Regions from separate parts of the Homo sapiens genome. Here region 1 is linked to region 2. A link means that fine-mapping ties the variant in region 2 to the expression of a gene that starts in the linked region. Tissue or cell type: whole blood. Region 2 holds a variant in brackets; the other region holds the start of a gene. All regions are shown on one strand. Distances are from middle to middle.

Region 1 (8,107 bases), 64 kb after region 2:
ATTTTTATTTACCCTTCCTGTAAGACCAAGAATGTAACCATGCCCGAACGGACTTTCACAAGATAATGTTCAAGTTAATCTCTGTTCCCTGATCTACTTACTCTCCCTAGTAATGAAAGGAGTTGGCCAGCTTGCTTTAGGCAGACAGTAAGGGAATGGTACCCAGAGAACCTCTGACCTGCCCCACAAGTGCTTACACCGGATGTTTTGTGCAGATAAGGGAACTTGCACAGGGGGCTTGCCTAAACATGCCTGCAGTGGATGATTCCTTTCCTTAACACATGCACAGTTCAGGAAATTAATCAATATGGAGTAGCTCAGTCTAAAGGCCTGCATGCACTGGTAGGACAGGGTGGAGTTGTCAGGAATTTGAGTCTTAAGCCCTAGTATTCAACTGTGAAGAGCAAACCAGAAATCTGCTTTCAGGACCCTTGTCTTTGCTGAGAGCTTTCCTTTCACTTAATAAATTCTACTCCACTCATTCTTTGATGGCTGCATGCCTAATTCTTCCTGGCTGTGAGACAAAAACCCGGACCTAGCTGAGCGAAGGAGCAAAAATCCGCAACAGTAATCCCATCAACAGAGTTTCTCTTCTTCCCCTCCCATAATCTGTTTTGCCAGGATAATATATAAGCTTTTAAGCCCTCTTGGGAAGTGGATAATCATTCTATGGTTCTCCCTGTGTACATGTTAATAAATTTGTGAGTTGATTTTTCAGCAAAGTTTCCCCAGAAGCCAAAGGGGAAATTTCCCTTGGCCCCTCCACTCTCTTTTCCCAGCTCTTCTTTTACTTTCGTTTTTATTTCCTCAGCCCAGTAGGTCACAGCCTTCTTTTTATTTCTTCTCTGTCCAAACCATCAGTATATCCTACAGGTGGGAGAGAAGCAGCTCTCTGGGAAACCAGTAAGCACCATGAGTTCTGATACTTTCTAGTACCATTTGACATATTAACATCCCCGCCACCCCTAATATGTATGGACACGCACACACATACCACATCACATGCATCACACTAACACAAACTATGTATCACATACCACACACAGCACACACAGTACCACATACCCCACACAACACCCACACCACACTACGTGCATCATGCACATATGTGCACACACCTCTTGTGATGTGTGTTTAGTGCAATTCAGAAAGTTACTCTTTGATTTAATGCACATCACTATGCTTAGAAATATTCTAGTTACTGGGATTCATCAGTGAACAATATTGAAAAAAATCCATCCCTTTGCATTCTCATGAGGGAAGCAAACACTAAACAAAATAAATTAGTAAAATATTCAGTGATAAGTGCCATGGGAACAAAATAGATTTGAAAATGTTTGGGAGGGAGAGAGGGGTACACTTGCTAACAAGTGGTCAGGATAGGGTTAGTTGAGAGGCAAAATCTGAAGGAGTTGAGGAAAGGCATTCTAGGAATAGCTGAGTGCTGACTCTTGCCCACAGTGGGAACACACAGTACAGAGCTTCTGAAGGAGACTCTAGTGACCTACTTCCCATTGTGAGTCTTTGGACTCCTATATCCCATAATCACAGGATCAAGCCTAACTTTACATATTAGAGATAATGCATTCCTCCTTGGGGATAGTTCAGGTTGATTTCTCCCTAGGCCTGCCTTTGTCAACATATTCCTGAAGTCTCATCTGCACCCCATCTCTGCTTCTAATATTGGCCACTCTGTGCATGAACCAGCCCCTCCTTCCTGCAATGGGAAACAGGTGTGAGATGGGACAGCTGTCACAATCCGTTTTGCTTTTGTCTTGCTGTTATTATTGGTAATGGTAGTTTGTTTCCTTTTTAGCATTCACTAGCTTCCTTTTCCTGATCCTTTGATAGTGTTACCAGAAAGGGGGTCCCAACCCAGACCCTAAGAGAAGGTTCTTAGATCTCGTGTGAGAAAGAATTTGGGGCAAGTCTACACAGTAAAGTGAAAGCAAGAAAGTAAAGGAATAAAAGAACGGCTACTCTACAGGCAGAGCATCAGCTTCTGGACTAAGGATACTGATATGGTTTGGCTGTGTCCCCACCTAACTCTCATCTTAAATTCCCACATATTGTGGGAGGGACCTGGTGGGAGGTAATTGAATCATGGGGGCAGGTCTTTCCCTGAGTAATTTATACTGCTGTTCTCATGATAGTCAATAAGTTTCATGAGACCTGATGGTTTTATAGAAAGGAATTTCCCTGCACAAGCTCTTTGCCTGCTGCCATCCATGTAAGACCTGACTTGCTCCTCCTTGCCTTCTGCTGTGGTTGTGAGGTCTCCCCAGACACGTGGGACTGTAAGAGCATGAAACATTTTTTCCTGGTATAAATTACTCAGTCTCAGGTATGTCTGGATCAGCAGTGTGAAAATGGACTAATACAGATACTTACAGTTATTTCTTGATTATGTACTAAACAAGGAGTGGATTATTCATATGTTTTCTGGGAAAGATGTGGGCAATTCCCAGAACCAAGCGTTCCTCCCCTTTTTAGACTATATAGGGTAGCTTCCTGACATCGCCATGGTATTTATAAACCACTATGGAGCTGGTGGGAATGCCTTCTAACTTGCTAACACATTATAATTCGTGTATAATGAGCAATGAGAATGACTAGAGGCCACTCTTGTTGCCATCTTGATTTTGGTGGGTTTTGGTCAGCTTCTTTACTGCAACCTGTTTTATCAGCAAGATCTTTATGACCTGTGTCTTGTGCCAACTGCCTATTTCATCCTGTGACTTACAATGCCTAACTTCCTGGGAATGCAGCCCAGTAGGTCTCAGCCTTATTTTACCTAGCCCCCATTCAAAATGGAGTCATTCTGGTTTGAACACCTCTGACAATAGGACAGATCTGGAATGAGCCATGCCTGGGTACAGAGTCACATCCACAACAATGAAAGTTGTAGATATCTGCAAGGACTCATCGTGGGACCAAGGATTCAGGGGCTCATTCTTTCTCCTCTCTCTGTGTGCTGGTTGCCTCAGGAGTAGAATGTCCCATGCTATGCATGGGGTCTGCAACCATCATGCCAGGGCATGATGAATCGTAGGTGGCAAAACAACAGAAGGCTCTGTGAGCACCCAGGAGGGTGCAGTGCTGAAGAGTCTTCTGCTTGGTATAGGAAGAAAGGAACGTGTTTCCCAATCTTGCCTTTATTTTGAGTAGTTGGACCAGAGGGATTGCAGCTGGGCCAAACTCCATGTTCCATTGGCTATCAGGGTCAGCAGGCAGGCCAGGGGCCCAGACAGGCCAGTGGCTCCCAGAATTCAAGTTTAATTTCTCCTCCCACCTGTGTCCTGAGCTCCCCTTACTGGTTCCCTTGGACCACTGCATCTACTTAAGCCAGCATTTATTATGTTGTTATCATAAATGCCTCTTACACCTGAGACTTATAAATGTGACAAGCTCTTATTGTGAGATAGTAATCCATCTTTTTTCCCCATGAAATAATAATTCTAACGGGTGGTGATAGTACTTTTCCTTTCATTTTGAAGTGGAGAAGCTGGAGCTAAGTCATTAAGGACTTGACCCTGGACCCCACAGCCTTTTCTCCACAAAGCACAAAGCAGAGTGATGGTCCCAGGGATCCCACACAGCTCTAAGCTGGGGGCACTCACTGCTGGGCCACTAGTGACTCCCATTTTCTATCCTGGCTGACCCTCGCTATTGAAGAAGATCTGAGTCCTGCAGAAGGACAGCAAGGAGAAAAACAAGACACAGAACGGGACAGAGAAGAATAGAAAGCTGACTCAGATGAATTTTGTGATGCCAATGAGTCCTACTGCTGTTACCACCCCTTTTTCCACCACACCCTTCAGAGCAGTTATAGAACCACAAGCAACCCATAAATAGCAAAAGAAGTAACATCAGCTAGGAAGGCTTAAGGACTCCCAAGGGAGTTGGTGGCAAAAGTAGAAAGATCTCAAATCAGAGTCTGTGAACTGAACCTCTGCAGGCTTCCTGTTTTTAGATACTCTGTGTTGGGGTCACATGATAGTTTACAGGGTTATTAATTGGTTCCTTCTTTTTATTGCTGTAAAAGAAGGATATTTTCTTCCTACGTTTCCCCCTCCTTTACCGGAGAGGCGGAGTGCAAATGATATGAACAACGTCACTAGTTTTCTCCTAAATCTTATGAGCCCCGCCTCCCACAGTAGTTTCACTTCTCAGTTTAATCCGGTCTGAGTTAACTTCCTGACCCAGGAAGTGGCAGCAACAGAGGGGACTAGCAGCGAATATGTAAGTGTCTGAGCAGTGAAGGTTACGGAAAAGGTCCAGGCTAAGGTTTTCTCAGTGGATATGTGAGTGTGTACTGATGGCAAGTGGGGTGGGGAATATATTTCGTGACAGCAGGGCCCCTCCAACTCTGAAAATGGTCAGGACTTTCTTTGTTTTACAGCTCTCACCTCTTTCCTGCTCTTTCTTTCACCAGACTTTACACCAAATCTCAGAAGATTCAGAACTTAGATGAGTGGGGCCCAGGACAGGAACCCTGGAGCCTTGGAAGGAGGGGAGCCCCATCTCCCCAGAAGAGCAGTGACCCCAGCAGAGAGGGGCCTGGTGTATCACTGGAGGAAATAGCCTGCCAAGGAATACACGTCTTCAGAAGAAATTCTGTGTGGCTTCAAGAGACTGATCAAATTGTGAGAGGAAAACAGCCTACCCGGTAATTGTAGTTAAATTACTGTTTTTTATTCTAGGCACTCTTCAAACTTCCTCCTGACTCTGCCCCTGTCCTAGAGGAGCTCCCAGGAGTAGGGGTGTGGGGGCGGGCGGGGGGGAGGGATCGGGGGTACAGGGAGAGCCCAGCTAGGTTCTCAGAAGAGGCAGGCTTTTTCGCTCCTGGTCACTCCTCTGTTGCCTATCCCTGGCCTCCCCCATCTTCTTTCTGCCTTCCCTACCTCCTTGGGTCTGCAAACTCTTTATGTTGCAATCACTCTGAACATGTCTCTTGAGATAGGTCCTGTCCTGGAGAAGAGATAGTAAAAGTAAACTCCCCAGTTCTGCAGGAGCTCTGATCCCATAGAAATAACTGCTCCTCAGGAGCAAACCCTCTGCTCTGCAGCCTTCTTTCCAATTCTTATTCCCTCAGTTTAGGGAGAGGGCACAAAAAGGATAAACCGGTTCTTCTGGTTGTTCTGGTTGCCTTGATTGCTTCCATTATCCTCCTGGTTGGGTCTCTAGCAAGACGTTATTAGCCAGGGAAGTCCCACTTAGGCACCCCTCTCTGCAGAAGAGGTATTCACTATTCTCCTTTCTCTTTCTTTTGCCTATTATACCTCTGCTCCTGAAAGCAAAAACAACAACAACAAAAACACAAACAAAAAACAACCGACCTTATTAACCAGTGTTGGTTGTTGTTCTTTGTGGGGGATGGGGGGGGTCGAGGTGGAGTCAAATTTTATTGTCATGATGGTGTAGGAGCCAAGGGAACACTTCCCCTTTGCCTTCTGAAGTTCACTGAAAAATCGACTCACAAAAGGCAGGCTAATTGGAGAAAAGGCATACAAATTTATTAACAAGTACATGGGCTAGAATCACAGAGTGATTACCCCCTCTGCCAATGGGGGTAGATACTTATATAGCCTTATTTATAAATACTTATGTATAAATACATAAATATAAATATGTATGCATATGTATGTATGTATAAATATGTATGTATACTGTATAAATATGTATGTATAACGTTTATACATGTATACATATTTATTTCAGAGGGGAAGGGTGATATCAGGAGAATATAGGTAATTCTTTGAGGGGCAGTAAATGATTACTAGGGAGAATAAATGAATATTTGGGAGGATGAATGAATGGAGGAACAGAGTTTAACTTGTAAATGGTTCTCTTTGGAAAATGAATGAGCCTGAGAGACAGACATTATTTTGTGAAAGTGTCTGATTAGGTCTGGTTACATTCTTAGTCCTCTTTTCTTCAGTACAAAATGAGATAATAGGGGTTGGAAGGAAAAACAATTGTTCTTCTTGTCTAGTGTGACTGGTCTTTATGTAGATAGGGGAAAAGTCTCTTCCAGCATCTGCTGATCTCTAAGGGCCTTTAATTCAAAATACTCATTATACCAGGGAGTCATATATTGGGGTGAAGCTCCCCATACTCCTTCAATGGAATCTGTCACAGATCACCCAATTGCATAAGTGTTACTACTAATTACAAAGAGTAATTCTGGTACCAATTATTCTTTTTTTTTTTTTTAAGACAGATTCTCGCTCTTTCACCCAGGCTGGAGTGCAGTGGTGTAATCTGGGCTCACTGCAACCTCCCCCTCCGGAGCTCAAGTCATTCTCCTTCCTCAGCCTCCTGAGCAGCTGGGATTACAGGTGTGCACCACCACATCTAGCTAACTTTTTGTATTTTTAGTAGAGATGAGGTTTTGCCATGTTGGTCAGGCTGGTCTCAAACTCCTGACCTCAGGTGATCTGCCCGCCTCGGCTTCCCAAAGTGCTAGGATTACAGGCGTGAGCCACCGTGCTGGCCTGGTAACAATTATTCTTGAAGTTAACTAGAATAGGAAAGAGTTTCACACTCCCTGAGTTCTCTCTTTTACAGCTTTTGTGAGGAAGCCTGCATTGCTTCTCCCAGCACTTGGTCCAAGGTAACTTTCTGTGATAACAGAATGTTGTATATTGAGGCTGTTATGTAGCCACTAGTCACATGCAACTATTAAGCAATCAAAATGTGGCAACTGGAACAGAAAAACTGAATTTTTTCATTTTAATTTTTATTAAGTTAAATTTAAATTCCTACTCATGATAGTGGCTACTGTATTAGCTATACAGCTAGATGTTTGTGTATCCTCTAAATTCCAATGCATTTCTTCTTTCTGGAGAGAAGACTTTAGCTGGACATGGTGGCACATACCTGTAGTCCCAGCCACTCTGCCAGGGTGAGGCAGGAGGATTGCTTAAACCCAGGAGGTCGAGGCTGCAGTGAGCTGTGGTCATGCCACTGCCCTCCACTACAGCCTGGGCAAGAGAGCGAGAACTTGTCTTATAAGAAAAGAAAAAGAGGCTGGGCACGGTGGCTCATGCCTGTAATCCTGGCACTTTGGGAGGCTGAGGCGGGTGGATCACAAGGTCAAGAGATCGAGCCAACCAACATGGTGAAACCCCATCTCTACTAAAAATACAAAAATTAGCTGGGCGTAGTGGTGCACACCTGTAGACCCAGCTACTACTCGGGAGGCTGAGGCAGGAGAATCGCTTGAACCCGGGAGGCGGAGGTGCAGTGAGCCGAGATAGCGTCACTGCACTCCAGCCTGGGTGACAGAGTGAGACTCCGTCTCATTAAAAAAAAAAAAAAAAGTTAGAAGACTGAGAAAAGAAAAATAATGAAATAATTTAGAGCAGTCTGAGCTATGTGAGGTATGCAAAATTTATCAGGACAAGTGAGGCAGGAGTATAGGTCTTCAGTTAAGACCCCATGTTTAAAAGCATTTTGTTCCTGACTGGCTGCCTCATCTATTACCTACATATTCCCGAGATTTGTAATACAAAGAACAATGTATAGCCAGTCAAAAGCTTATGCTATTTTAATGTAAATTCTTGGCAAACAACTTTAAAACTGCTTTAAAACTGCTTTTTTTCCTCTAAACAACCACTTGTAACTGCTTGCTAATGAGGGCAACTTGAAACTCTGCACTTGGGTTGCAGTTCTCAAACGTGGCCCAAACAACCTCAGCCTCAACTTCTTCCTTTTAGGTCCTCTTTTCTTCAATACAAAATGAGATAATAGGGGTTGGAAGGAAAACCTTCAAGACCTATGGAAGTCAGTTGCAGCCAGCTCATCACATAGAGGTGCAGGTGAGGTGTATTTTCATCACGGTGGAAAATTCTGGCTGCTTCATCTCCATCTCTAGAGCCAATATTGGAGCTTTTCAATAAAAGCTATGGCCTCAACCACCAGCACCAAGAAGATGATGGAGGAAGCCACCTGCTCCATCTGCCTGAGCCTGATGACGAACCCAGTAAGCATCAACTGTGGACACAGCTACTGCCACTTGTGTATAACAGACTTCTTTAAAAACCCAAGCCAAAAGCAACTGAGGCAGGAGACATTCTGCTGTCCCCAGTGTCGGGCTCCATTT
Region 2 (8,107 bases):
TCATTCTCTCTCCTTTCCTTTTTCTTTCTCTACTCTTTCCTCACTCATGACCCCAAACGGCTCTAATTTCTGCTGTTTTCTTGCCCATCACGTTCCTTCAGTTAGTCTTTTCTAGGAGAGAAAAGCCCTTTGCCTGGCAGTCTGGAGTGTCATCCTTATATCTTTACTATAAGAGAAGAAGAGGTATTTGGGTTCAGCCTCCAGATCAGAGAATCTCCTGAAGGACTTTTATTGGCTTAACTCTGGTCACTTCCCTAATTCTTGAACATATCATCCCAGCTGATGGAGGTAGAGTTCTCCCATTGGCCAAGCTTGTAGGAACCTTTGGTAACTTGGAGGGCTCTAAGACCATAAAACAAGAGTTTTCCAAAGCACTAATTATGTCTCACTAGTGAAATCAATTTGAATTGATATGAACAATATATTTTTTAAATGAGATATATAATAGGATAAATCAAGGCCTTATTCAATAAAATTAAAAATTTCAGAGTGTATTTCACTCTGAAATAAAGGTAACTGTTTTGTAAGTATTCTATTTTATTTATATGTGTTTGTGTTTCTGAGTATGTCCTGAGTTGCACGATAATACTATATTTCTTATTGGGTAACATTGTCAGAAAAGTTTCTAAAAACTTTCTCTGCTGCACTTATTTTATACATTTTATTTATGTTAATAATCTCACATTTAACACACTTATGATTTATTCTCAACAGAAAAAGGTGGTATTTCTTTCATTTAGTCTTTTAAAAAGCTCACATTATCAAATGATTGCTCAATCATTTAATCTCTTTGCTTCTCTTATATGCATTGATTTAATAAATATGTATACTAGTTTCTCCATCGATTCTTTAGATTTGAAACTTATTTTCCTTTTATTCTTACAAAACTGACTTGTCTATAGGCCCACTTCTACTTCCTTTATTCTATCATCTTCCTCAACTTATTCTGTGGTCAAAGAATGGAGAAATAATATTAATAATATGTTTTTCTCATCAATGACTTCCACCTGTTCTCTGAGAAATTCAGCTTCAAGAACTTTAGTTTGATATGACTGCAAAGATAATACACAGTCTAAATCATAAAAATGTCTCAAAGGTTTTTTTTTTATTTGTTTCTTTGAAATATCCATGAACAGGCATGTTTCTCCCCTGTAGTGCAATTTGTGTGAAATTCTGGCATGCACTTAAGAGGATGTCCTAAAATACCAATATTTAATTGATTCTAAGTCATGTATTGTATCACATTTTTGCCCATGGATTGTTGAAATCCATGGACAAAACTGATAGCATTTTAGAACTTCCTTTGTCTAGTGGCAGTCTTGATATATTCACACTATCTATTGACAAAAAATCTAAAGCACCAGGCTCAAAGCTTGTAGAGTAGGTGTCAGTGATTTGGAGGACATCTCTAGGGCAATAGTAGAGGCATTTTTAACCCCTAACAACTAAATGATCATCAGAAGTGAGTGATATCCTCACTCATGACCCCAACTGCTCTAATTTCTATTGTTTTCTTGCAGAAATGAGAGCAGGTGGGGTCATGGGTGAGGAATGAGGTGTTGAAAGTGAATGGGGTGTTGAAAGCAAGGTGTTTAGCAGTGTTCTGAAAGCATACATTTAAGTAGGCTATCCGGGCACTGTCAATAGCTAAGTGTCAAGCTAAGTACTCTATTTTATTCTAAGAACTATTTTTAGAAATGCTGAATCAACAAATCTCAGATGGCACAGAGGTTGTCATTTTTGAATAATATGAATATCAGTAATTTTAGTTGGAAAAGAAGATTTTCAAAGAGCCATCTAAGTTTCCAAAATAAGTGTTGCAGTCATATTAACTATTATATTTTCCTGCCTGTTGATCTACTGCCTGTGAATTGCTTATCAAACCAACAACCAACTGGAATACATAGACTGCATGTCTTGTTCATTTCCTGCATTCTCAAGTAATGGTTTAACAAACTCATGAGCTTACTCTTTAATCTGAACCATGCTTAACTTCAATTATGTTGATTTAGTCTAAGGATGCAGAATTTATTTTATAGTTATGTAGGAACTGGAATCCAAAATGTAATATGCCTCCAAGCTTTTCTTTGTTGGCCTCTGAAGGAGCATCACCTCTACAACTTCAACGTTGTTATGAATACCTCTGGGGAGGTGTTCACCTCAGGACCCAAATTTGGAAAAAGGGAAGTGCCACTTTGGAGGAGTGCTCTGAGCAGCTGATCCATTAAATGTCCCGATCACATGCACGTGGAAGTGTCATTGCAATATCTGCACTAACAGAAGCTCAGTGACTTGAGAAGTGAGTCTGGAATTCTAAGAAAAAGGCAAGGCATCTCTCTTGCCACTTGTTATTTTTCCAGTCAAGCAACTGTGATAAGAGGGCATGGAGAGCAGGAAGAAGTGAAAAATCCCAGGAAAGTCTGGAGTGGAATCATTAAACCAATTCTGCTCCCTCTCTAGGCCAACTTGGGCCTATTATGAATAAGGAGGTCTCTTATAATCCATCTAACTCCACTCAGGAACAATTTGGGGATCTGAGACTGTGAACTCAGTGGGCAAAAAAATATTTCTTGGCCTATCATTATTCTCTGTAGGATGTTAAGGACAGGTTTCTGTATGTGGAGTCCTCAGTTTTTGCCTTCTCTCCTTGAGATATTTTTATGCTATTTAGTAATTGATGGCCACAGTTGATCGACCACATTTCTGGGCAACTCTAATAATCCTTGTTATATTAATCATTGGACCAATCTTGATTGTGTATGACCATCATCTTGTAGCTACCACCTCTATGTGGATGCTCTCCTCACCCTGCTTAAGTGCCAATGTCTGTGCTATGGGCCTACCTGTCACATGGATAATCTCTTCACTCCAGTCAGGCTCCAACATTAACACAGGGCTGTTCTCTTGTCCCCCTTTGAAGACAGCTTCATCACCCTATTCAAGTTGCAGTACTCTCACTGGGCCTCCACTGTTGCCTCTCTCTCACTCTGCTTAGGTTTCTTCACTCCACTCCAGGCAACTGTCACTAAACATCCTTCCCCCATATATACACAGACATCTACCTTGCTTGGCCAAACCCACTGGATTTCAGACTCACTCATTCAGAGAGTAAGACAGAGAGGGGTTCATTTTTTATTTTATTTTATTTTTTATTTTTTGAGACGTTGTCTCACCCTGTCGCCCAGGCTGGAGTGCAGTGGTGCAGTCTTGGCTCACTGCAATCCCCACGTCCCAGGTTCAAACGATTCTCCTGCCTCAGTCTCCCAAGCAGCTGGGATTACAGGTGCCTGCCACCATGCCCAGCTAATTTTTGTATTTTTAGTAGAGACAGGGTTTCGCCGTGTTGGCCAGGCTGGTCTCGAACTCCTGACCTCAAGTGATCTACCCGCCTCGGCCTCCCAAAGTGCTGGGATTACAGGTGTGAGCCACTGCGCCCAGCCGGGGTTCATCCTTAATACATACATTAGAGATATAGATTCTGTTTTTATCTAAAAAGTCTTTATAAGGCCGGGCGCGGGGTCACGCCTGTAATCCCAGCACTTTGGGAGGCCGAGGCGGGCGGATCACGAGGTCAGGAGATCGAGACCATCCCGGCTAAAACGGTGAAACCCCGTCTCTACTAAAAATACAAAAAATTAGCCGGGCGTAGGTGGCGGGCGCCTGTAGTCCCAGCTACTTGGGAGGCTGAGGCAGGAGAATGGCGTGACCCGGGAGCGGAGCTGCAGTGAGCCGAGATCCCGCCACTGCACTCCAGCCTGGGCGACAGAGCAAGACTCCGTCTCAAAAAAAAAAAAAAAAAAAAAAAAAAAAAGTCTTTATAAAAATCTGATTGAATGGTTGAATGCTGTGCTAAAATCTGCATAATATCTTACAACACTTCTGTGAATCACGAGACAGTTTTGAATGCTAAATGTCAGTTAACAGATCTAAAGGGACCAACATCTGCTTTCCCAAATTATATGAAAGAAGATCCTGATCCCTCATCAGGTGAAACTCACATCAGACAACAGTGTCTGCATTTCTCCAAAACCCGCCTCAGCCCCATGGCCACTTTCCAGGGTTATCCTGCCTACCAAGCACTCTCTTTCCTCAGAAAAACTTGGGGGAAAATGTAGAATAATAATTTTTTGAAGTTCTGACCAACTTCTTGAATCACTCAGCATGTTTTTGACTGCAGGTACAGAAAACGCTGACTCAACAAATTTAAACACTATATAAATTTCTTATCTCCCCAAACAGGACATCAAAGGCAGAAAGGTTCCAGAGCAGGGTGATCAGAGCTCTGGCTCCACTGCCCTCAGTCTTCTTGCCTCTGCTCTCCTTCACAGCAGGCTTTACCCCCCATGCTGGTCACAGTTTCAAGTGTCCATGCAGACACAAGTTAAAGGCAGGAAGAAACAGTGCGTTTCTCTTGGAGATCAAGGAATGCCTTTCCAGAAAACTCCCCCTTATGTCTCATTTGCCAAAACTTGGCCTAGTCTCAGGTGCTGCCTGAGCTAATCAGCTACAGAAGAAGGGACCACATGACTGGTGTGGACCAGTCAGAATTCACCACATGAAGCTAGTAATGTGGCTCACACTTCCCAGGGGGATATGGCCAGGTAGCAGACAGTGGATCGCTGAACAGAATACTGATAGATTTCAGCACCAAGGTTAGAATGGCTACCACACCTAATCCCACCCTATCCCCGTTTCCTTCTTTAATTTTTTCCATAGCACTTATCAGTAGCTGACAAACTGTATATGTTTTTACTTTTTTATTGTCTGTAGCTCCCAAGTAGAATACAAACATCTGAAACTCACTGTATCCATCCTGAGTAATGTTCTTTTCAGCTCAGTCACAATCATTTTTTGATAGCCTATCCTATAAGCTTAACTTATAGTGTTAATCAGTATTAATACATCTTAGTGGGAAAGAAGGAAAAAATAAACGA[TCA/T]CACACACACACACACACACACACACACATACATTTACGTAACAGAGCAAGTGTGAAAATACCTAAAGGCTTTATAGCTCCTTTTGTCAATGGATACATGACAGCATTTTTGGCATTCTTTACTACTCTTATTCTATGCTCCATTTGTCTTCAGTCAGCACCTCAGCTGCCCTTATGTTTTACTTGGTAAGGCAAATTCCTAAATGAGCCTGGTAATTAGTCATCCAGCTTATAGGAAGGTACTATAGTTTTTCATTAACTTTTTCACTGGGCTTGAGAGTAGTAAGGACTCCCAGAGAATTCCTTGTGTTCCAAAAGTACTTCTCCTTGACATCTTGGTATAGGATTAATAACTGTTTACCTTTGATAATCAGGAAGAATGACTCCAGCTAGTACAGTTACGTGATGCCTATACATTCCTTTTTTTCTGGGAAAAATGTAATGTGAAATTAAGTGCAAAAACCATGCCTTGTTTATGTATGTATCAAACACTTCTAGAGCTTTCCCAATACAGTTCTCTTCTCAGCAAACAAGAGGACTATACCCTCATCCCCACCCCTGCACTTAGGTGTAGCCAATGTGTTGTAACTTAAAGAGGAGAGGGCACTGGATGAAGGGAAATCTGTCTAACAAGCTTCTTTATTTCACCTAGTGGAAAAAAGCCTTAATCTGCAGTGGGGCAGTTTTCAAGGACATAGACTGAATTGGCTCATGCATTTATGGAAGATGAGGAGTCCCATGATCTGTAATCTGCAAGCTGGAGACCCAGGAAAGCTGGTGGTATGATTCAGTCTGAATCTGAAGGCCTGAGAACCAGAGGAACTGATGATGTAAATCCCAGTTCAAGAGCAGGAGACCAGATGAGATGTCCCAGCTCAAGCAGTGAGGCAGAAAAAAAGGCCCAAATTCCCCCTTCCTCTGCCTTTTCTTCTATTCAGACCCTGAATATCAGGTGGCATAATGCCATCCACACTGGGAAAGACAGTTTACTTTACTAGGATCACCTATTCAAAGGCTAATCTCATCCAGAAACACGCTCACAAACACAGCCAGAAATAATGTTTAACCAGATAGCTGGTTATCCCCTGACTCAGTCAAGTTGACACAAAAAATGAACTATTTCAAAGCTTACTGTAATCAACAGTTTTGTCAAAAAGATAGACACAAATCAGTGGAATGAGATAAACAGTCTAGAAATAAACCAACAAAAATATTGCCAACTAAGGCAAAGGTAATCAATGGAAAAAAGATAGTCTTAGCAACAAATAGTACTGGAACACCACAATGTGTTAATAAAGTGAAACTGGAGACATCTCTCACACCTTATACAAAAGTAACTAAAAATAAATCAAAGGACTAGATGTAATGTATCAAACATTACATCTTTTAGAATGTATCAAACATTACAAGCTTTTAGAATAAAATATAGAAGAAAATTTACATGATCTAAGATTTGGCCCCAATGAAGTTTTAGCTATAATAACAAAAGTATTAGTCATGGAAGAAAACAAAATTGATAAGTTCAGGTGGGCTAAATTAAGGGAAAAAAATCACTTTGCAGTAGAGAAACCTGAAACATTACCTAAACCACATGATGAAGGTTAATATCAGTGATGTCATGTGGATATCATGTTCTCCCTAAAATGATGTGACAAGAAGGGCCCTTTGCCCTTGTGGTATTATTTCAAAAAATCTATAACTCCGGTGTAATTATGAAAAAAAAGCAAATGATCTTCAGGACTGTTAAGGTCATGAAAAGCAAGAAAAGACTGAGACATTGTCACAGACAAAAAAAGACTAGGGAGATATGACAAGAAAATGCAGTGTGGTATTCCAGATTGGACCTTGGAACAGAAAGAAAACATTAGTGGAAACAGTGGTGAAATCCACATAAAGTCTAGGGTTTGGTTAATAGAGTTTCATGTATCAATGTGAGTTGCTTATATTTGACAAATGTATCATAATAATGTAAAATCCTAACAATGGGGGAAAGCTAGGTGAAAGATATATGGGAACTCTCCTGTACTGTCTTTGTACTATCTTTGCAACTTTCCTGAAAATCCAAATTATTCTAAAACAGAAAAGTTCATGCTATTAGAAGTGAGGATAGAGGTTACCTTGAAGAAGCTGAGGTCTAGAAGAGACCATGAAGGGTCTAATTAGCTAACACACGTTGAGTATCCCTTATGCTTAGAACCAGAAGTATTTCAGATTTTTTCAGATTTGGAATGTTTGCATTATACTGAGTATCTCAAATCCAAAAATCCAAAATCTGAAATATTCCATGAGCACTCCTTTGAGAATCATGTTAGCATTCAAAAAGTTGCCGATTTTGGAGCATTTTGAATTTCCAATTTTTAGATTAGGAATACTCAACCTGAGTAGAGGCTGCCTGCTAATTACCTGGGAGCTAATTACATGGATATGTCATTTTGAGAAAGTTTAGCTTGCTGATATGGATGATTTTCTGGATAAAAATTATACTTTGATAACAATTCTTTTAAAGGAGACAATAGTTATTAACTTTTAAGTACTTTTTAGCTCTACAATTCAGAATTCTTTAGTGCTAAATATTACATATTTTGAAACAAAAGTTTTGTTTATATTTATTTATTTGTTTCCCCCCCCCTTTTTTTTTTTTTGAGACAAGTTCTCACCTTATTGCCCATGCTATAGTGCAGTGGGTGATTATAGCTCACTGCAGCCTCAAACTCCTGGACTCAAAGGATCCTCCTGCCTCAACCTCCCAAGTAGCTAGGAGTACAAGCATGCACCACCATATCCAGCTAATTTTTGTTTATTTCTACAGAGGCAGGGTCTCACTATGTTGCCCAGGCTGATCTCAAATTCCTGGCCTCAAGTATCCTCCCACCTCTGCTTCCCAAAGCGCTGGGATTACAGGTGTAAGTCATTGCACCCAGCCAAAAGTTTTATTTTAAACTTATTATTATGAGCATGTAACAGATTTATGTGGTTTGAAATTCAAACCTACAAAAGAAAATAATAAAAAGCTAACAGATAGACAAACAAAAACAAAAGCAAAACCCCACTTGGCCATGCTCTCTAGTTCCTCATTTCTCTCTTGGAAGAAACCAGAGCAATGTTCCCTGTGTATCCTTCCAGAGATAATTTTTTAAAATACTTTTTTCTTTTTAACAGAAGAGATGGTAG

Evidence for each region. PIP is the estimated chance that this variant, and not a neighbour inherited with it, causes the effect.
Region 1: TRIM38 starts here. The variant in region 2 is fine-mapped to the expression of TRIM38 in whole blood (INTERVAL, PIP above 0.99).

What each region holds. Positions count from the first base shown.
Region 1 is chr6:25,958,614-25,966,720 of GRCh38, forward strand. TRIM38 (tripartite motif containing 38) reads left to right here and starts at 4,189. Exons shown (of 8, transcript NM_006355.5): 1 at 4,189-4,242; 2 at 4,436-4,669; 3 at 7,722-8,107. The coding sequence starts at 7,910. RefSeq lists a cis regulatory region at 57-361.
Region 2 is chr6:25,894,267-25,902,373 of GRCh38, forward strand. No RefSeq gene overlaps it. Among named protein-coding and RNA genes, the nearest start is that of SLC17A3, 24 kb to the left of the region's middle. RefSeq lists an enhancer at 3,850-4,439. The variant TCA/T (reference allele first, on the strand shown) is at 4,935.